2 linked regions of the Homo sapiens genome follow. The protein of the gene in region 2 interacts with the protein of the main gene of each other region in a biochemical or structural test. Each region holds a gene or a part of one and is shown on either strand. Other genes may lie near its edges.

Evidence for each region.
Region 1: the proteins of TNNT2 (region 2) and TPM1 form a complex in vitro, tested with the Homo sapiens proteins (one study listed by BioGRID).

What each region holds. Positions count from the first base shown.
Region 1 is NC_000015.10:63,044,426-63,055,326, reverse strand, and holds part of TPM1 (tropomyosin alpha-1 chain), read right to left. Parts: intron 9,294-10,901; exon of another isoform or gene 6,752-9,293; coding exon of another isoform or gene 6,620-6,751; intron 6,487-6,619; exon of another isoform or gene 5,940-6,486; intron 5,281-5,939; exon of another isoform or gene 5,186-5,280; intron 1-5,185. UniProt on the Homo sapiens protein: Binds to actin filaments in muscle and non-muscle cells. Plays a central role, in association with the troponin complex, in the calcium dependent regulation of vertebrate striated muscle contraction.
Region 2 is NC_000001.11:201,359,453-201,368,985, reverse strand, and holds part of TNNT2 (troponin T, cardiac muscle), read left to right. Parts: intron 1-758; coding exon 759-824; intron 825-1,179; coding exon 1,180-1,215; intron 1,216-2,114; coding exon 2,115-2,148; intron 2,149-3,315; coding exon 3,316-3,376; intron 3,377-3,678; coding exon 3,679-3,795; intron 3,796-4,610; coding exon 4,611-4,688; intron 4,689-5,579; coding exon 5,580-5,690; intron 5,691-6,591; coding exon 6,592-6,600; intron 6,601-6,963; coding exon 6,964-7,073; intron 7,074-7,616; coding exon 7,617-7,707; intron 7,708-9,322; coding exon 9,323-9,363; intron 9,364-9,533. UniProt on the Homo sapiens protein: Troponin T is the tropomyosin-binding subunit of troponin, the thin filament regulatory complex which confers calcium-sensitivity to striated muscle actomyosin ATPase activity.

The sequences.
Region 1 (10,901 bases), on a different chromosome or scaffold from region 2:
GAAGGACTCTATAAAAACATGTAAATACACTTTTATCTTGACAAAAATGTAGTAATTGGTTGATGGAGGCAGGGAGCAGGGCAAATGTGAAATAAATCAGAGGAAGAGCATTTACAACTGTACTGCCTACAAAGTAAATCATTATCAGTGCACAGCTGGTAAATGGACCCAGCTAGGAATTACTGGCAGATGACTGTTGTTTCTGGTGTGTGTGTGTATTGAAGGGTGAGGGTAATAGGATAACAAATCTCTCAATTATAGGGAAGTGTCTTTTAAAAACCATTAGGCTTTTTTTTTTTATTACTATTACTGGAAGGATGTATATATTAAGGATATACTTTTGGGTCAGGTAAGATTTCTTCACTTTTCTATATTTTCATTTTCCAGTAAAATTCTATTCCTTTTGAGGGTGGGGGGGAGACTCAAAGCGGAAGCAAAAACAAAGGGCAAACAAAACAAAACAAAATTTAAAGCCACACAAAAAAACCAAGCACACAAACCAAAAGCCCTACAACAACAAAAAGCCTCCATAGAGTGTCTAGGTTATGTACTCAAAAGCACTGTACACTTTCTTTTCTTTCCCCCTTTCTTATCATTTTCAATATGATGGCAAATATCCTTGTTACAGAGGCTATGGCCTATTAGAGAAATGCCAGCAAGATTTTCAAAACTTTTTTGTAGCTACCAAGTTCCAAGTTCTCTGCTCTGCTTTAGATCTGGGCCTGAACCTCAAGGACTTTGTACTCACAGAAAGACGACTGTTTATGCTTTGGGGAAAGAACCCTCTGGGTGACAGGTCTCTATCCCCAGCTCCCCACACAGCCGAGTCACCAGAAAGGAAGGAAACAGCACCTCATGTTCATTCCAGCCTTGCACATGAGATCTTCCTACCCAAAGGGCCCCTACCAATCCATCCGTGTCTTCCCTCCGATCACCCCCACCCCCATTCTTTCCCTTAGCTCTTGGCACTGTGTTTACAGAATGCTGTTGTCTAAATGCCACTCTTGTTTCCCCAGGGGCATTCTGTAGAACCTCAGACTCCTGGACATCAGAGAATATGTCCTACAGGAATACCAGCCAGCAGGGCTTCATACAGGGTGCCCCAGCAACGACTGGGCATGGAGACCAGTTTCTAGGTGCCAGTTTGTGATATAGTGGGAGGAATGGTAGGGCACACACAGCAGACCTGAGAGTGGCTGCCCCTTCCTGAGGAGGCCCTGTAAATCCAAAAAATAGGGTCTCAATTTTTTAGCTAGAAGGATCCCTAGGCATTGTCCAGATCAGCAATTCCCACAAGTGGCTGAGTGTCAGAATCAACTCAGAGATGAGCATTAAAAAAAAAACTTTCAGCTGGGCGCTGTGGCTCACGCCTGTAATCCCAGCACTTTGGGAGGCCGAGGCGGGCAATCATGAGGTCAGGAGTTCGAGACCAGCCTGACCAACATGGTGAAACCCCGTCTCTACAAAAAACACAAAAATTAGCCAGGCATGGTGGCACATGCCTGTAATCCCAGCTACTCAGGAGGCTGAGGCAGGAGAATTGCTTGAACCCGGGAGGCAGAGACTGCAGTGAGCCGAGATCATGCCACTGCACTCCAGCCTGGGCGACAGAGCAAGACTCTTGTCTCAAAAACAAAAAAAAAAAAAAAAAAATCAAACTTCCAGGCCGTGTCCCTAGAGATTCTGATTCAGGAGGTCAAAGGGGGAGGGCAGGAATCTGTACTATAAATAAACAATCCCCTTTGCCACCACCCAAAGAAGCTGGCTATTCTTCTAGCTCTTGACTAGAAACAGGCGGCAGGAGGGAACTCTGACCCTGGGCACAGAAGTATGTGGAGGCCATACAGCCATCAGTGTGAGACAGGATTAAGATCCAAGTCACTAGGCTCCCAGCATGCCGGCTCTCCACTATGTCACTTCTCCTGGCTTCCCGGAACATCACGGAAACCTTGGAACTGGCAGTTCTCACTCCTGTGTCTTTATCTCTCCTGAGATCAGATTGAGATGTTCTCCGGCCCCCACCCCAACTCCCCACAAAAGGCCTCAGGCACAGATCCTAACCAGGACTGGGAGAACAGTTGCTGCAATGCAAATCATCTGCTAAAGTGATTATCACAATCTTTTTGAAATGAGGCAGGATATAAAATTGAAAACTTCATAAAACAATGCTAATGGGTAATAGGAAGCTCACATAAGGACACGGAACATTTACTCCCTAGCCCAGAAGTCAATGCCTACTGCCCCAGAGGTTTCAGAGCAGGACAGGCAGAGGGGCTTTGAGGTTAAAGCCAGGACCTAGGAGTAGTATCTGAGGTACACCTATCTTTATGGGAAAACCCTGAACCCATGACAGGCTCTGCAGGCCCTATTATACTGGCCTAGTAGAATTTTTGTTTGGCTCGTTAGAATTCAAGATATGCTTAATTTTATAATTTAATCAGGGCCACTTTTTTCTCTTTCTTATTTTTACTTTTTATTCTGATTTATTATGCTCTATGTTCCAAAAGCCCCACACCTCTCACCTTTACTAGCTTTTATTTCTGGTATTTTTTTTTTTAAGTTTTGAGCTTATTTCAATATTTTCTAAGGTTCTTTTCATCATGGCACCTGGGGAGTCTTAAGGACCTGCTGTTGCCTCTGCCGGTACAAGCCCATAGACACATGACCATCTGTTATCTAAAAGCAGAGATATAAATAACAAGGCATTTGGGGAGGGTCAAGACCCCAGACACAAATTATTTGCAGGCATGTAAATCACTCTTAGTGTACTGAGTTAGCTTTCTTCTTCTTCTTCTTTTTTCTTTGAGATGGAGTCTAGCTCTGTCTCCCAGGCTGGAGTGCAGTGGCATGACCTCGGCTCACTGCAACCTCCACCTCCCGGGTTCAAGCGATTCTCCTGCCTCAGCCTCCCCAGTAGCTAGGATTACAGGCACGTGACACCATGCTCGGCTAATTGCTGTATTTTTAGTAGAGATGGGATTTTGCCATGTTGGCTAGGCTAGTCTCGAACTGCTGACCTCAGGTGATCCACCCGTCTCGGCCGCCCAAAGTGTTGGGATTACAGGCATGAGCCACTGCACCCAGCCAAGTTAGCTTTCTTCTAACAGCAGCCCATGTGCTGACTGCCAGTGAAGTCTTTCAATCTGGGATGCTAGTTTCTTTTATTTCAAAAGTGCTATTGTGTTCTAACAATGAACTACTCAAAAAAGAGACTGCTGTATTAGTAAAGGCTACCAATGTCCTCCTGCAGATGTTTTTAAGTAACTTCCTGGTGCTCTGTACTTGAGGTGCCTTACAATGCATATGACCCTCCTCTAAGGGCATGCACCCCATTCCCCCACCCCAACATGGTACTATATAGAAATCAAGGGCATGCCCACCCCACCATAGTATAATATTATCCCAAATCAGATTTGAAAAAAAAAAAAAAAAACAACTTTTATGAGGCCTAGATTTTCATGAAATCCAGATGTTTTAGCCAATACAACAACAGAAAATTAAAAATGGCAGTGACTTTTACTTTTTAAAAAAGTATTCCAGTTAAGGTTATTAAGAAAAAATACTGGTGGGAGAATATTATAATCTAGAAATCAATCCTCTGGAATATGTTTCCAAAGTCCTGACTGAACTGGAGTGGAACTTGGGATGATCAAAGGTCAGGTCTTTTTATTTCATGCAAACTGTAGTTATACGAAGAAGGTTTCACCCAACTTGCTGTGTAAGGCCAAGTGACCACAGCCAAGCTAAACTTCTGCCCTTATATGGTAAGGAAAGGGGGGAAAAAAAAAAACACTGATGACATTAAGGGGCACTCCCATGGATAACAGATAAACACAACCTCCTGTGTGTGCCAAAGCCCATAATTTATGAAGCATATTTGTATAATGAGGGAGAACAGACATGAACAAGGCATTGTAGTGCCTCTGCCTTGCCTACATATGAAAGCGGAAATCGAGAGTATACATTCCAGTTAACAGCCACTCTGGGAGTGCCAATGCAAGCACAAAATGCACCCTCGGTTTTCCTATCCCGGAAATACTTACCAAGTGTAAAGAGGGAAAGTGCTGGGAATTTTTGTAAATTGGTTATTTCCCATGATTTAATCATGTTACTAATTAAGAACCTTCTGGCCACAACTCCCTGTCTCCTTGTTTGCTGGATACTACTCAGAAAGGAAGATTCATCCTGCCTTTTTCTTTAAATAATGAAAAAAAGCAAACATAACCCTAGTGGGTCACAAGATCTGGAATCAATCATGTCAAGCAAAGTAGCCTCATTCCAACATTTTGAAGGATCCACACACCTTGGAAACACAGACTAGGAGGAAGTAAGGGATGGCTGCTTTTTCCAAGGTAAGGGCTGGTTTAATAGGGCCTATTAATTACAGTCTGAGTATTTGAATTTAGGCCAACTCTCTGGTCAAATATTTTTTGCAGTGGCTCATGGTTTTGTCACTAAACCTTTATCTTTGCTGCCAAAAGAAACTGTTACTGCTAGCTTAACTCACAGCCCAAGCTACATCTAAATACCTAAGTCAGCTACATTTAAGTTCCAATTTCAGAAGTTAGGAACAACTTGCAGCCTGAAAGTCTCTCTTCAATGGTCTGATCCAGTCTTCAAGTTGCTGTCTTAAAAGGTTCTGTGTTCAATCAATCACCCAGGTAGATTGTTTGCAAAGATTACTTAAAAAAATTGAAACTACTTAAACTACTTTTGATATAAAGCCGTGAAAAGAACGAAAGTACTATCTTTAGCCAACTGGCACAGGAAGAGTTCTGTTATAAAAACGACGTGCAAAAGAGAAGGTAAGAATAAAAGTAATAATGTGCCCTTCATAAAATTTATCTTTTGTGTCTAACATCAATCACTAGGCCAGGAGCCAATACAAGGCTCTCCTGCATAGGGTCACACATACTCTTTCTTAGCAGGGTGAGGAGACCTCAGACTTCTACCACTGATACCACTTTAACCCATCAAACATGCCTACCAGCCCGCCCACTTCCTCTTCATTCAAGCCCCCCGCCCCAACAAATGTTGATTAAAAGCAGTAAATGAAGTGTTTTATGATGTCATGAAATGAGCAGGCCATCTTTAAGACCTCTTGCTGGGTGGGGAACTGAAGGTGAAGGAGCACTGGGCTGCCAGGGCTGTGCAGTTTTAATGACAGCGGGCACACAGCACTTACCCTTTTGCGCCAAGCATCAGTGTACTGTCTTTACATAGTAACTCCTTTAACCGACAGGTAGATGCTGTTACTATCCACACTTTACACACAGGGAACTGAAACACAGAGATTAAGTAACTTGCCCACTGCTAGTAAGTAGTGGAGACAGGATTCAAGTTCTGACAGTCTGGGTCCAAAGTTCTTGTTTTTATCCATCATATTCTATATAGTTCTAATGGTTCAAGGACAGCTACTAGCGAGTAAGGGAGTCGGAATTAGTTTACCACCCAGCCAAGTTCAGGGATATCCACAGGACTTTTGCTGACTCGTCCTATAAAGCAAATACTGAGAATTATCTTTTGCCTATTAATTTCCTTATTCCTGCTTGTATTTTATCTGAAACTTTCTCTAGTTGAGCTTTCCTCTGAAGAGGACCATTTCAGGTCTTGAAGTTTCTGTGGCCAGCCATACAGCCATTTACAAACACTTAACTAGAACGATTTACTCAACTCAGAACAACCCCGTATATTAAGCACAGCAGGACATCATACTATCAATTGTCATAAAACTCCCAAGGTGTTTGTTTCAGTATCTTCATTAAAAACACACACACACAAAATCGACAAATATCCAATACTAGACTACCTCTGAAATCCTGTTCGTGTTTGCTGGATACATTTGCCTTAGAAGAAAGGAAGGAAGCCAGGTATTACATTTAACAAGGGGGAGGGGAAGCCCGCAAGAGAATACACCCAATAACTGTTGACATTTCGCCAACTTTTTCCAAGACTTGGTAACAAAGCATTATCTATCTGTATGAGAGAAAAGGGGAGGAGGACTGCTGAAAAAAGGGACGGGTTAAGGGTTTTGCACTATAGTTTAGCTCTTCCAGCAGAACGCGGCGCTGTCAAGCTGTCAATGTCTGTCTACCGCCTCGGAGACACAGGCCGCCGGGAAACCACAGGGTCGACGGGAACGGCGGAGTGTAGCATCCCCGGGCCCCAAGTCCACAGTGCCTCTCCCACTTGACCTGTCGGCGCCCCTTCTCAAAGTACGGATCTCCAAGAGGAAGGACCTCCTCCCTCTCCACTCTCAGAGTAAAGCAAGCCAGCAGCGCAAAGTGCACCTCCCGGGGACGCACAGACACGACTGAAAGCCACCACCCCAGAAACAGACCCTTCCTGGGAAAATGCTCCTTCCAGAACCTTCTCAACACCACCCGTTTCCCCTGGGAGCGTTTACTTTGGATCAGCGAGATGGAAAACAAAGGCTCAGGAGAACAGGCCGGGCCCCTCCCCAGAGCCCGCCGCCAGCTGGCCCAGGTGCGCCAGGTGCGCCCTGGAGGCGTGGGGACGAGGGACCGGGGCCTGCGGGGGGGGAAGCAGGAGGGCCCTGCGGGGCTGCCCCGGGAGGATGCGCCTCTGGGGGCTGCGGGGTGATGGGTGTATCCCTTACGGTCTCCCTCAGCTTCCTCTCGTGGTCCAGCTCGCGCTGCAGGGTGCCCGCGCGCTCCTCAGCGGCGTCCGCCTGCTCCTGCAGGCTCCGGATCTTCCTGCGCACCGCCTCCAGCGAGCTACTCCCCGCCATCGCGCCGGACGGTAGGCGGGCGGGAGGGCTGCAGTGGGAGAGGCCGGCTGCTGCCCTGCGGACCCGGCTGCCGCGGCTGTCCTGGCTGCCCAGCGCCGGTCCGCCCCGCCCAGGCCTCTCTGTGCGATGGCGGCGCCCCCTGCGGCCAGGAGCAGTCCGGAAGTCGCAGCCTCCAGGGCTGCGCAGACAAACCGCAGGCGGGCGCGCGCGGCTGGGAGGGGCGCGCGCCGTGGATCCCGGGACTGGCTGGGGGCACTGCGCATGCTCGCGGCGGCGGGGAGAAAGGCGCTCCCGGCGCGCTGCGGGGGTACCTGGTGAGCTGGGCGCTCCGGGAGGCCACTGCACTAGGGCTCTGGCTTCCACTTCTAGGGCCCCTCCGCGGCGCGGTGGTGACCCGGGGTAACGGAGCTGGCTGCTAAGGGCAATAGCGACTCCTGCTGGCCGCGGGAGCGCTCCGCTCCCGAGTCCAGATTCCCATGCCCGGGAGCCAGAGAAGCTGAGCGGCGGGTCTGGAGCCGGAATATGCCCTAAAGGGCCTGATCCCAACCGCAAGATTATAACCCAAGCACTACCCCCATTCCCCAAAACTTCACGAAGTGAAAACCACCCGCGTGTAGAGCACAGTGGTTAGACCTCCTGTTCTAAATGCAGTTTTCCTAGGTTGACTCTGGCTCCTAGTTTCCTGCTGCGTGACTTCGGACACATTACCTGTCTTCTCTGGGCGTCATCTGTAAAAGTGGGAATAATAATAGTACTTTCCCCATGGGGCTGCTATGAGAATTATGAAGGACTGTAAAGCGCTTAGCACAATACCTTGTACATAGTTAAAAACTCAAATGATAGCTACGATTAAGAAATACACAAGCATTGTTTTAAGAGTCAGGCTGAGGCCCATAATCAGCTGTGTAATCTCAGGCCAGCCTCCCTGGGGCTCACTTTCCATGAAAACAGTCATCCAAATGGTCTCTTCTCTTTACAGCCTTCTTTGGTGTCAGACCAGCCTCTGAGATCTCCTGGAATCCAGTCAGTCCTGGGCTGGACTGGGATGCCTTTAAAAGGCACCCCAAGGAAAGCCACAGAACCCTATGAGAGAGCCTCTGGCTACAGGTGGAGAAAACCACCGCAGATACAGTCTCCACCGATTTCCCCCTTGAGCTGTATTCTTAAATGCCTTCTAAGTCTCAGGGCTTTTTCTCCTCAGGTTTGTCACAGAAAGCTCTTAAAGCCAGCTCCCTTATGTGTGGGAATAATAAAGAAAACATGCTTGACAACCCTCTCCTCCTCCAAGCCCTAACAAGGAACTTTTGCTTTCCTGCCTCATTTTCTGTGGAGTTCCTCACAGCCTCTGCTGAGACTCTCACAAATCCCAGCTTGGGTCCTTGCATCCTGTAGGTGGGAGCTTCTCGCTTTGTTTCCCCGCGGTTCATCTGGTCAGGTGGGGAGGTTACAGCTGGTCCCCTAAGTGCAGAGACTGTGGGCCTCCAACATTGAGAATGGGGGAACCGGGTGTCTGGCAACCTCCAGGAGCAGCCAGGAAACTGCTGGACACTGGCAAGTGCCATAAGCAGCCAACTAGTGACTTAATGTCCTGGGAAGGTCAGTTTCAGGTGAGTTCATTTTCATGCCGATGTCATTATACAAGAGTTTAGGAGAGTTTTCTCATCCTTGTCTGTAGGTTGGAATCACTTGGGTATTTTTTAAATGCTGCCGCCTGGGTTGCATCCCCAGGGATTCTGATTTAACTGGCTTTGGGTGCATCCTAACTTTGGGTTTTAAAAGCTCCCTAAGTGATTATGTTTAGAGAAGGTTGAGAATCCCTAAGTTAAGAAGTAAAGACCTACAAAGGGATAAAGACTCATATGCTATAAATATCAGATATATCACAGTTACTGGGGAAGAGATTGGGGGCCAGAAAAAAATGGAGTCTTCGATCCCCTTCAGCCTCACTTTTGACTTAGGTGGAAAGACAACACAAAATTCGAAACAAGACCATCAGGGATACTACTCCTGAATGACAATCTTCTAAGCTAGGTAGAGCCCACTTCCAGAATAGGATTTGTAAAGTAGTAGAAAAATGTTTTTAGTAATAATAGTAGAAAAATGTAAAAGTGTTTTACACTGGTGAATAATGACAATGAAATGTCCTAATCCCAAAGGTAATACGATTCCACCTCAGGAAGCTGACTTCTCCCTTACCGGACTTCTCCCTTTTTCTAGTGACATCTGTCTCTTCCTCCTCAAGTTTTGACTATTTTTTAGTAAATAAAAAACGAATACTCTCAATATGGTCATGCACTGCATAATGATGTTTTGGTCAATGAGGGGCTGCATATATGAGAGTAGCCTCATAAGATTACAATAGAACTAAAAAATTCCTATCGCCTGGTGATTTGTGTTACAATTGTTGACAGTATTCAGTACAGTAACACACTGTACAAGTTTGTAGCCTAGGTGTTTAGTAGGCTATACCCTCTAGGTTTGTGTAAGTACCATACACTCTATGGTGTTTGCACAATGAATAAATCACCTAACGACACATGTCTCAGACCTTATCCCCCTTCATTAATCAACAAATGACTGTATAGCATTTCTTCACTAACTTCTTCAATATTCCTACGGGCTCCAAACTCCAGACAACCTAAAGTGTCCTAAAAGGGAATGTGATCAATACACTATCAAAAAAGCCATATATGCCAGATTTAGGGGCAGTTTCCCGGTGGGAAAAATAACCAAAACAAGATTCAAGAAGCTCCCTCCCCTGCTGCTTCCCACACCAGCTGACTTTAAATAACTTCTTTCCCATTTCTGCCCCACCCCATTCCAGCGCTCCCTTCAACAAGACTTTTCAATAAAGACATGTTAGCACTACATAGTTACAATAATTATTATCCTATTTTTTTCCCTTAAGAATTGTAGTAACCTTTTTCTCCCTCTTTTGCCTTCAGTCTTACTGGGCTATTTTCAAATTCTCTGCATTCTTTTCCTTATAAGGAATATCTTTCCTTGATCTATTAGCAGCTCTTTTGAAAAAGCTAAATAAACGTCCTGCTGGAGAATTTGCGGGAGGCAGGCATCTTCCATTTAGCCATATATAGAGCAGGCATCTGATCTGCATTATACAAAGTAGGCTCAGAGTCATATATGGTTTTTGGCTCTTTTTCCAAAGCCAGGTAGTTTAGAATTTAAATGTTTTAGCGAAATCAGTGCTTCCCCCCAAATCCCCTTTCCAGGAAGCTTGATTTTCACTGAAAATTTCTTTTTGTCAGATCCTAAATGTCGTCTCTGGAGTTCTCATTTACAAAGCACACCTGGATATACATCTCAAGCCTTTCATGCTACAAAAGACTTCACTAATTTCAAGACCTGAGACCCTTCAGTTATTTGCATGTTACTTTCATATAAAAAAGTCTGCTGTTGCTCTCGGTGTTTCAACTGCTGGCATAGCTTTCCCTGGTGCTCACACATTCTTGGAATTGTTACCAACTTCCCAAGGAATTCTTTTCTAATTGGGCCTCTAGGCTTAATTAGCTTTTAGAATGGAATCCAACGGTGTGAAAAGAAGTTGGTCCTTTGGCTTGACTTTCCGAGGCAGAAGAGGCAAGCTATCAATTAAAAAGCTTCCAAAGGGCAGTGGACAAAGAGCTTAGGAGAGCCTTAGCTGTGTGCATCACCCCTGCAACTATGTGGTGGTTGTCAGAAGGCTGACAGGTGGGGGCGGGGCCAGCAGGAGGGGCAGGGGGCAGCTAGCTCACTATACCATATAAAGCACTGAGCTATATATAACTCACAGCTTACTTTCTGGATCTAGTGCCTTCAGACTGCAGACCCAAGCAAGTATCATCTTCCCAGGCAGATCTTAAGGGGTGGATTAAGGCTTACACTAATGAGAAAGGAAGCCTCAAAGTGTCTCTGTGCCCCACCATGAAGTGCAGCCATCTAAGTAAAGGTACCGCTGTGTCATTTCTTTCATTTAGAGGCCAGGTTCTCTGAACCCTGACTAGACCCACCACCAAACCCAGAACTTCCCACCCACTGGAAACGGCAAAAGGAAAGAAAGTGAAGAAAACCTGGCATTCTCTACACAAACCTTGGTGATGACACCTCAAGGGTTTTCTGCCACCAGGGAGGTGAAGTTCACCTCCAGAGTCCA
Region 2 (9,533 bases):
TAAAAGGCATCTCCAGGCTTCAGAGAGGACTCAGACCTGGGAAGGGAGGACAGAGGGAATGAAGGCCAACCCTTCTCCCACGATGGTGTCTTCCTCCTGTCTGAGGTTTTTCTTCTCCCTCTGCCAAGAGGCACCCACTTCCCAGTGCATCAGTGAACAGGCATCACAGAACACTTCCTACAGGCACAGCCCAGGCCAGGCGGCATCCTGTCTCCCTTATCTGTTTGTCTGTCTGTCTACACCAAGTGCCTGAGTGAGATGGGGGCCACATCCTGCCAAACAAATAGATGAAAATAGAAAAATCCTGCCCACTTTCTGGATAGTACGAAGATCCAGATATTGAGTGTGCCATCCAGCCACACAGTCGTACTCTTTTGGTTTCTTTGAGATGTGGATTGAGGGTGTCTAGAGTCACTAGGTTCAGGACAGGAGCTTCTGGACACCTCGGCTTAAGCAGAGCATGTTCTGTGGTGCCAGACACGGGGTGGAACTTCTGGGCTGGAAAGTTGGGGAATGAGGTGGAGTCCCATCATCAGGGAGGTTGCCGGGATGAGTGGGGCTAAGCTGGGTGGCGGGAGGTAGCCGACAGTCAAAACCAAGAATGGCAGCCCCCCAGCACGTTGGTTGCCCCCAAATTCATCTGGACCTAGACGTCTTGACCCCCATCCCCACTCCCCGCTGCCCATTCTCTGCTCTGGGTTCTGCCTGATAGCATGAGTGGGGCCTGCTTCTTCACTCTGTCTGCTTCACTTCTCCAGAGCAGGAGGAGGCAGCGGAAGAGGATGCTGAAGCAGAGGCTGAGACCGAGGAGACCAGGGCAGAAGGTAAGTCTCTGGTTGAGGGTGCAGGGGCCTCAGGGGGTGGCGAGAGCCCCTGGAGCCATTCCTGAGGCAGTAAGAAACCCCCCAGAACAGGCTTTCCCATGTGCACCTGACTCTCCTATTGACTAAGATTCAACCATTGATTGCCCAATCAACAAACGTTGACCCAGCGCTTCTCTTGTGTCAGGCAGTCTTGGGTCCAGGGGAATGTGTGTGTGAGAGACAGCTCTGTAACCCCAAAAACCAACAGAGTGCATCTTGGCTAGGGCTTATCTGTGGGGAAGGCTCTTGCTGGTGGCGGAGGGGGGGACTTGAGCTCAGAACAAGGACCTTGATTGATTTCTCGTGTTTCATTTAGAAGATGAAGAAGAAGAGGAAGCAAAGGAGGCTGAAGGTAAGGATATCAGGAGAGAGGTACAAGGGAGGCAAAGGAACCCCTCACAGCAGCTTTGGAGGAGAATGCCCACAGTGCTCTTTCCAGGGAAGTGGATGTGCACTGAGAGGGTTTGGGAGAGGAGAGGACAGAACTTGGTGGCACTTCCAAAGTTTTAGATGTTGAGCTTTCAACTTTGCCCCTTCTCCCAGAGAAGTTGCATTGGTGGCACCCAGTGGGAGAGGGGACCATTGTCCAGCCCCCTGGTCTGGACAGAGCAATGGGACCCAGAAGTCATATCCACACATGAAGCTCCTAGAGCTTAGGTGAAATCACTTGTAGGATGTGGTGTCCGTAGGATGAAATCCCAATGCATAGATGGTCATGGTGGGTCATTGCTGCAGTCATCGTCATGCTGCAGCCTTCACCAGGGTTCTAAGTGGTCCCAGTCACTTCTCCAAAGGGGAGGGGACAACCAGCTGGGGCTTGGAATCATGTCATCAGCTTCTGCCCTGTGGCCACCGGGAAGTCCAAGGGGTAACAAAGAAGGCAAAGACCTGGGAGGGGATTCTAGGGCCAGGACCCTTGGGGACCTTTCCAAAGGCCTTGTCACTGTGAAGCACAAGAGAAGCAAAATTGCTTTGCCCAGAACTGGTGAGTGAGAGAAGGCTTTGTGTGAAGTTCCACACTGCGTGAGTGTGTGCCCTGCAGAACTCTATGGGAGGGGGAGTGTGGCATCTGCAGCCCCCGCTGCCTTCATTCTCCTGGATGCTTCTGGAATCAGGGCTCCCCAGTGCCGGGAGGGACTCACTGTGCAGATGGGGAAATGGAAATCCACAGGGATCTAGCTCATCGAGGGCGGAGTTGGGACCACTTCTGGGGCCCCCTGACCCATGGCTGTGTGCTTCTATCTCCTCCAGATGGCCCAATGGAGGAGTCCAAACCAAAGCCCAGGTGAGTGGGGAGGCACCTGGGTAGAGCCGGGAGCAGAGGCTCAGGGAGAGAGGATGATGATGGAACGGGGTGCAGTATGGTGCAGTGGACACGGGCTGGGGGTTTGGTGGGCACAGAGCACCACAGTACAGTTGTACAAGTTGTGTACTGCACAAGCGTCTCTTCCTAAGGGAGTGAGTGAGGGCTGAATTCCACCCAACACTCCATCACCAATCGTGCACCCTAGCAGGGATGGGGCTATGTTCTTCTAGAGGAAGGGCCCTGAACGGACACTCTCCTCTCTCACAGTATGGCCAGAACACCCTCCTCCATGGCCGAGGTGGGACCTTGGGATTAAGGGAAGCAAATTGTGGGGAGCCAAACAATGAAACCGTGCCAGCATAGGCATGGCGGCTTCAGAGAGCTGAGAGAGGGCAGGACGGCTTGGTGCCACACACGTGAAGCCCACCTGAAGGTGGTGTGTGCTGGGGGGGGCTGGGGGATAGGGAGCATTTCCCTTTTTATGATGCCAACCCTGCCAGCAGAGGTTGACCCATGGCACCTCTGCCCACTCACAGGCTCTTCCCATTTCAGTGGGGCCTTCTGAAACCAGCCCAAGACATCCCAGATCCATTTATTTGCCCAGTGCCTTCCCCCTTCCTGGCCTCTTGTGCACTGCGGTATCTCATTTCAGCTCCACACACCTGAGGGCAGATGGGGACATGAAGAATCAGAGAACCCCCTGGGTCTCAGTATGTGTTGGGACCAGGACCAAACTGCAAGACTCCCAGGTTCATGGCCAGTTTCTGCGGGGTCCACCAGGGGATTTGAAGTCCAAGAAGCATGGCATCTTGTCACAGCTTCTTTGATTCCAAGTTGTGTGGCTTTGAGCAAGTCATTCTACCTCCCTGAGCCTCAGTTCTCCTAAGTGAGATTAACGGTACCCACTTCATGGGCATATCATGAGCATGAAGTGAAATAGCATATGTGAAAGAGCTTTGTGTATTCCCAGGTGCTGAGCAAGGCTGAGGACTGCCATTGTTGACGTCAGTGTTACTATCATTGCTGTGGTTGGTCGGGGCAGTGCTGGAAGATTCTCTAGGAAGGATCAGGGCCCTGCCTGTCCTGGACACCCTCAGTCCCTGGGTCCAGAATGGGGCTGATGCTGACTATTCCTCTCTCCAACAGGTCGTTCATGCCCAACTTGGTGCCTCCCAAGATCCCCGATGGAGAGAGAGTGGACTTTGATGTAAGCGGTGGCTGTGGGTTGAGTAGGCCTGGGCTGGGGATAGTCCCAAGGGCCCTCAGTGACAGAGATTTTGTGACCTTGGGCTGGGGTAGAGCATAGGTGGGATGGGGTGCAGCACCAGCCAGGCTGGGTGCCCATCCATGAGCGTGGTCCTGGGTTCAGGCCACAGTTACCCCTTCCCTGGCCAGGCGCCAGGCCCTGCCAGAGGTCTTTTGCACTGCGTTGGGGGGTGTCTAGCCCACCCATCTCTCCTCTGGACTCTTTGGAGTGGCAGCCTCTGAGCCGCAGCGGTCCACCCACAGGACATCCACCGGAAGCGCATGGAGAAGGACCTGAATGAGTTGCAGGCGCTGATCGAGGCTCACTTTGAGAACAGGAAGAAAGAGGAGGAGGAGCTCGTTTCTCTCAAAGACAGGATCGTAGGTGTCCAGTCTGCCCACCTAACATTCTCTGATGGCCCAGTCTGTCCTCCATCCCTTTTGTGAGGCCCCACCTCCTCCAGACAGCCTTCCTCGGCGCCTCAAACCCAGCTAGGTGTGAGGTCTCCTTCAGAGGCCCTCCAGCATTCTGCACAGCTCCTGCAGCCCTGACTGGTTTCTCGGGTCCCTGCCTTCCCTCCCCATCCTACTGGATGCTCCTTGACTGCCAGAGCTGAGTCTGATCTGTTTCAGGCCTCCCCCAGGGCCTAATTCAGGCCCGGGCTGTGGACTGATTGGTCACAGGCCTGCTGCGCCACCCCTGCCCTTGCCTCCTCTTCCCCCGCAGATGAAGGGGAGTGTGACCTGCAGAATCCCACATCCTTCTCCTGCAGAGCGTGGAGGCTGCTTTGATTGCTTTTGTTTCTCCCCATCAAACTTGCCTTCCCACAGACATGCTGCTCTGGCTGGAGCAATGACTTGGCCATCTATCCAAGCATATGGCACAGAGCAGCTGCCAGGGCAGGGTGGGATGGAGGTGGGGGCAGAGCCCAGAAGGAGCCTGCCTGATGTCTCCCAGTTGTGGAGGGCAGTCTCACCATGAGGAATGTTGGAGGTGGGTCACTGCAGGTACCCTGGTGTGCACGTCCGTGGAGCTGGTTGAAAGTGGAGGCCCTTGGAGGCCGGGCACCATTGCTTCAAGACTCTGGAAGGAACCCTCCCCCAGGAATTCCCTTGCCACCCCATGCAGGTTTCTGTACCTGCGATGTCACCTTCTCCCTATGCACACCTGGGTGGGCTTTGCCTCTTCTCCTTAGGAGAGACGTCGGGCAGAGCGGGCCGAGCAGCAGCGCATCCGGAATGAGCGGGAGAAGGAGCGGCAGAACCGCCTGGCTGTGAGTGACCCCTAGCCCAGGCCCATGGAGGCCCCCCATGCTCCCAGCTCCTGCTGGGCCCCCAGGCCCCTCTCTATTCATCAACATGAATGAAATCAGTCAAGAGACAATATTGGCCGGGTGCGGTGGCTCACGCCTGTAATCCCAGCACTTTGGGAGGCCAAGGCGGGTAGATCACTTGAGGTTGGGAGTTCGAGACCATCCTGACCAACGGAGAAACCCTGTCTCTACTAAAAATACAAAATTAGCCAGGCGTGGTGGCACATGCCGGTCATCCTAGCTACTCAGGAGGCTGAGGCAGGAGAATCGCTTGAACCCAGGAGGCAAGGTTGCAGTGAGCCGAGGTCATGCCATTGCACTCTAGCCTGGGCAACAAGAGTGAAACTCCAACTCAAAAAAAAAAAAAAAGGAAAAAAAAGAGACAATATCAATATCAACCTAGGAAGTGCTGGGCATTGTCTTGGCTCTGATAATACATCAGCAAACAAGACAGAAATGCCTGCGTCCTTATGAACGTGTTATTTTATAAGACTCTCCAGCCCTCATCCCTTCCCCAGTGCAGACTTCGTGGGAACCGAAGGCCCCGTAGCTCTCTTCCTGTGCAGCTGCTGAAGGCATTTCCAGAGCAACAGGTCTTCCAGGGGCACTCCCAGCTTAAGGGGATGACGAGACCTCACATTTGGGAATCAGGACCTCATTCAATCACGCAGTCATTTCTCAGTCAGTGGACTCCTGTGGGCCAGCACTGTGCTGGGAGCTACCCTCTCAGAAAGCTCCTTGCTGAGCGGAGAGAAAGCTGAACTCACCCATAAAGACCACAAGCTTCAGCCCAGAATCAGGGTTTCCAATCCTTTCCCCTAATTTGCTTTCTTCCTCCCTGCTGTAAATCAGGAAGAGAGGGCTCGACGAGAGGAGGAGGAGAACAGGAGGAAGGCTGAGGATGAGGCCCGGAAGAAGAAGGCTTTGTCCAACATGATGCATTTTGGGGGTTACATCCAGAAGGTAGGTAGGGAGCAGCAGGGGTTGCCAGGAGATCCTAGTATAGCCCTGAGGAATGAGGTGTCCACTGCAGCAGGTAGACTTTAGGTCAGGTCCCAGGAAGAGATTCCCAGCTGCTGTGGGTGGAAGACTGAGGTCTCCTCATGCCCAGCCCTGAGCTGGTTTTCAGCCTGACCGCGGCTTGCACTAGGAGGGGCTTGCTGGGGTAGGGGGCTACAGGCAGAGCCTGGGGCACCAATGGTGCCCCCCATGCCTGGCTCCAGCAGTGCTCAGGAGCCCCCAAGGAGGCTGGGTGCAGCTGGAAGAGCCTTGTGCCTAGAGTCAGAGCTCTAGTTGGAGACCCAGCTCTGCCACATACAGTTGTGTGACCTTTTGCAACCTCTGAGCCTCGGTTTCCTCAACTGGCACTCATATTGCCTGCCTTGATGCTTTGAGAAGCTCAAATGAGCTACCATGGAAAGTGTCTATGTGCCACACAGATGTGAGGTTGTTTGTTCCTGGAAACTCACTCTCGATCCCTAACTTTTGTGCCCCATTCCTCCTAGGTCCTCCATTCTCGAGGGAGGAGGGATATGTGAAATTGATTTTCTCTAGGTAGTGAAGGAATCAAAACATTTTCTTAGATTTCCAGCTTAGTCCCTAGCTCAGGACTAGGCCACCCCCTGCCTCTGCCCCCATGGTGACCACACCAGCCAAGACTTTGGCATCAAAGTCTTCATGCTACCGAACAGCCCCTGCTGTAACCCTCAGACCCACGTCCTAGTAAACCCGGCTGACTACAGCGAGTATCTGAATCTTCTCTTCCATGTCTCTCCTTGCCTTTGTCTTCCTGCCTTCTCTCTGTGTCTCTGTTGCCGTCTTGGTCTTTTTCTATGGGCCTCTCTCTCATGGTTTCCCGGTTTAGCAGGCCCAGGTGGGTACCAAAAACCTCAAGCCTTCTTCCTCCCCATAGTTTTGGAGAGCTCCCTGGGAGGGGAAGGCGCCTTGCTGGAGGGGAGGAGTGAAGAGATTGGGCTGGCTGGGGAGGGGGGAAGCTGGTGAGAGGTGAAAGAGATTAGTTAGGCAAAGAAGGAAGAGACTGACGTGATCCTTCTTGCCCCTACCTCAGTTTCCCTAGGGAATACATGTAGTTGGTAGTTGGGGGGTGTGGCAGGAAGAAGAGCATAAGAACCTGGCCCTCCTGCAGGCCTTGCTCCACCCCCAGGGGGTTTGGGGAGGGTTAGGGGACAGGGAGGGGGCAATCTGGCCAGTTTACTCTGCTTCCCACACCCTCCAGACAGAGCGGAAAAGTGGGAAGAGGCAGACTGAGCGGGAAAAGAAGAAGAAGATTCTGGCTGAGAGGAGGAAGGTGCTGGCCATTGACCACCTGAATGAAGATCAGCTGAGGTGGGGGCTGGGAGGAATGGTCCTGGGGCACTGCCCGCATCTGCTCTGGGAGGGGTCGGGCCAAGGGCACTTCTTGCTGTGAGCCACCAGAGGGCAGGACTGCCTCACATATTTTCCCATGGCAAGTTTGGTGGGACCAGAGCTGGGCCCCAGCAGGTCGGGCCAACTCCTTTCTGGGCTTTGCTGATGGGGAAAGAGAACTGAGCAGGTGCCCCACCCCTCTGAGCTTCACCTACCCACCTGCACACGGGTGTCAGGACAGGGGATTGAACTAGATGCTCTCCTGCGCCAGAAGGGCTTCTCCTGCTCCCCGCTTGTTCTTGGAACTTTGCCCTGGCAGTCCCTGGTGTCCGTTCCTGAGCACTGGGTGCTGCCGTCTGGTCCCCAGGCTGGGTCAGGCCCAGGGGGTGGGCTGGGGTACCCTTGGCAGGCCTGGAGGTGGGAAGGAGGGCTGGGATGCTGGGGGCTGGGCCGGGACCAGGACGGAGGCCCAGGAGGGCCCTTTCTTACTGGACCTCCCCATTCTCACCCTTGCCCGTGCAGGGAGAAGGCCAAGGAGCTGTGGCAGAGCATCTATAACTTGGAGGCAGAGAAGTTCGACCTGCAGGAGAAGTTCAAGCAGCAGAAATATGAGGTGGGCCGCCATGCTGTCCCCGCCCAGCATCTCCATCTCACACTCCTCCTGGTTCACTGGGTCCGGTAATACTGCTGCAGGTCCCTGGGTCCCTGTCCCTATTCCCCAACAGCCCCCTTCAGCTCCTGCATCTGCCCCTGCTGCCTGGCCTTCAGCAGTGTTCCATGTCCACCGCATTGACGACTGCTTGCTGGAAGTGTCTGAGAGCTCGCTGGGGCTGAGCAGAGACACTTTCCTGGTGTTCCAACCCTGGGGGTCTCCAACACGTTGAGGCAGCAGCTCAGTGATCTGAGCTGGTTACAAGGACCAGGATGCACCAAGCCAGGACCCCCAGTGGAAGGGGAGTGCTGCCAACAGAGAGGTGCTTCTCCCCACATACACCCAAGGTCCTGGTGTGGGCACAATTAGGCTGAGCCTCAAGCTCACAGTCTTTCGGAGTCCTATGTGCACTAATGAGGGTCTTAGGTGAACAGACACCAGGCAAGGAAATGGCTTAGAGGACACTGATGCTGCATACCGGAGCTTAGACCTGGGCGCCAGTCCTTCCTTACCCACCACCCCCGAGCCCCGGTCCCAGGGCCTCTTTGCTACCTAAGGGAAGAATTCAGCTTCCCCTGGAAGGTCTCCTTTGCTGCTCCTGCCAAACCACTCCTCCCTGGGCAAGAAGCCCCTCGCTGGGCAGGCTCAGGCTGCAGTGGCTACAGGGTACTCCCACCTCCCAATACGGAGAGAGGCTGTATTGCCTGGTGACAGTGGCATGGACTTTGGAGCCATAATGCCTGGGTTGAATTTCTACCTGTGCCCCTCACTGGCTGTGTGACATTGGGTGAGTTAGTCCACTGTTCCTTGCCTCCATTTCCACAGGTAACACTACAATATACTTCAGAGGGTGATTGTGAGGGTTACAGAGATAATACTAATTGTTATTATTGCTATAGTGTTCCAACCACTGTTCCAAGCATGTCCCATGTATTAACTTACTATGCCCTCATAGCAGCCCTATGGGTTCATATCTGGGAAGGTGCTCAGGACAGAGCCTGGCACCCACTAAATGCTCAGCAGGTGTCAGCCATTGTTATGGCCTCTCTAGTCCTGTGCCTTCCACTTTTTTCTCTTTTTTTGGTTCCACACTGAACTCTGCACCGGCCAACAGGACACAGATTTGCCAAACTTTGGGGCAGCACCCTGCAGGGGTGGTGCATGGGGATGCTACTGCTCAAAGGGCACAGCTTCCGGGATGGTGGGCAGCTGGGCAGGGGTGCCCCAGAGGGGTCTGGGGCTGGGCTGCTAGGAGGGCTCCATGACACAGCCTCCAGCTTTGTGCCCAGCTCTCAGAGGCCCTTCTTATGGGACTCTCATATCCTGAACCTATTATGGCCCTGGGACCCCACAGTGGGAGGCCCATGAGGCATCCTGGAAGCTTCTCCTTGGCTTCTGCCTGTGGTACACGGGCCCCTCCTGACCCTTAACTATCCTAACCCCTCCTACTCTTCCATGCTCCTCCTTCTCCTCCTGCACTGCTGCACTCAGCCCCCTTCTCCCCATCCCCAGGCCACCTGGGACCTGAGCCAGTCAGCTCCAGCGTTGCTCTTTGTCCTTCCCACTTTTCTTGCAGATCAATGTTCTCCGAAACAGGATCAACGATAACCAGAAAGTGTAAGTGTCTGAGGTCATTCTCGCCTAGCCCTCCCCCTGCCCCCTCCTTCCCTACCTTCCAGCTATCCCATTCCTCCTTGGAGGGCCCCAGGCTCCCAGCCCTTCCTCCTCTGCTTCAGCCCACAGGTTTCCTTCTCTGGCTCCTCCGGGGCCTCGTGCTTCTCTCCCTG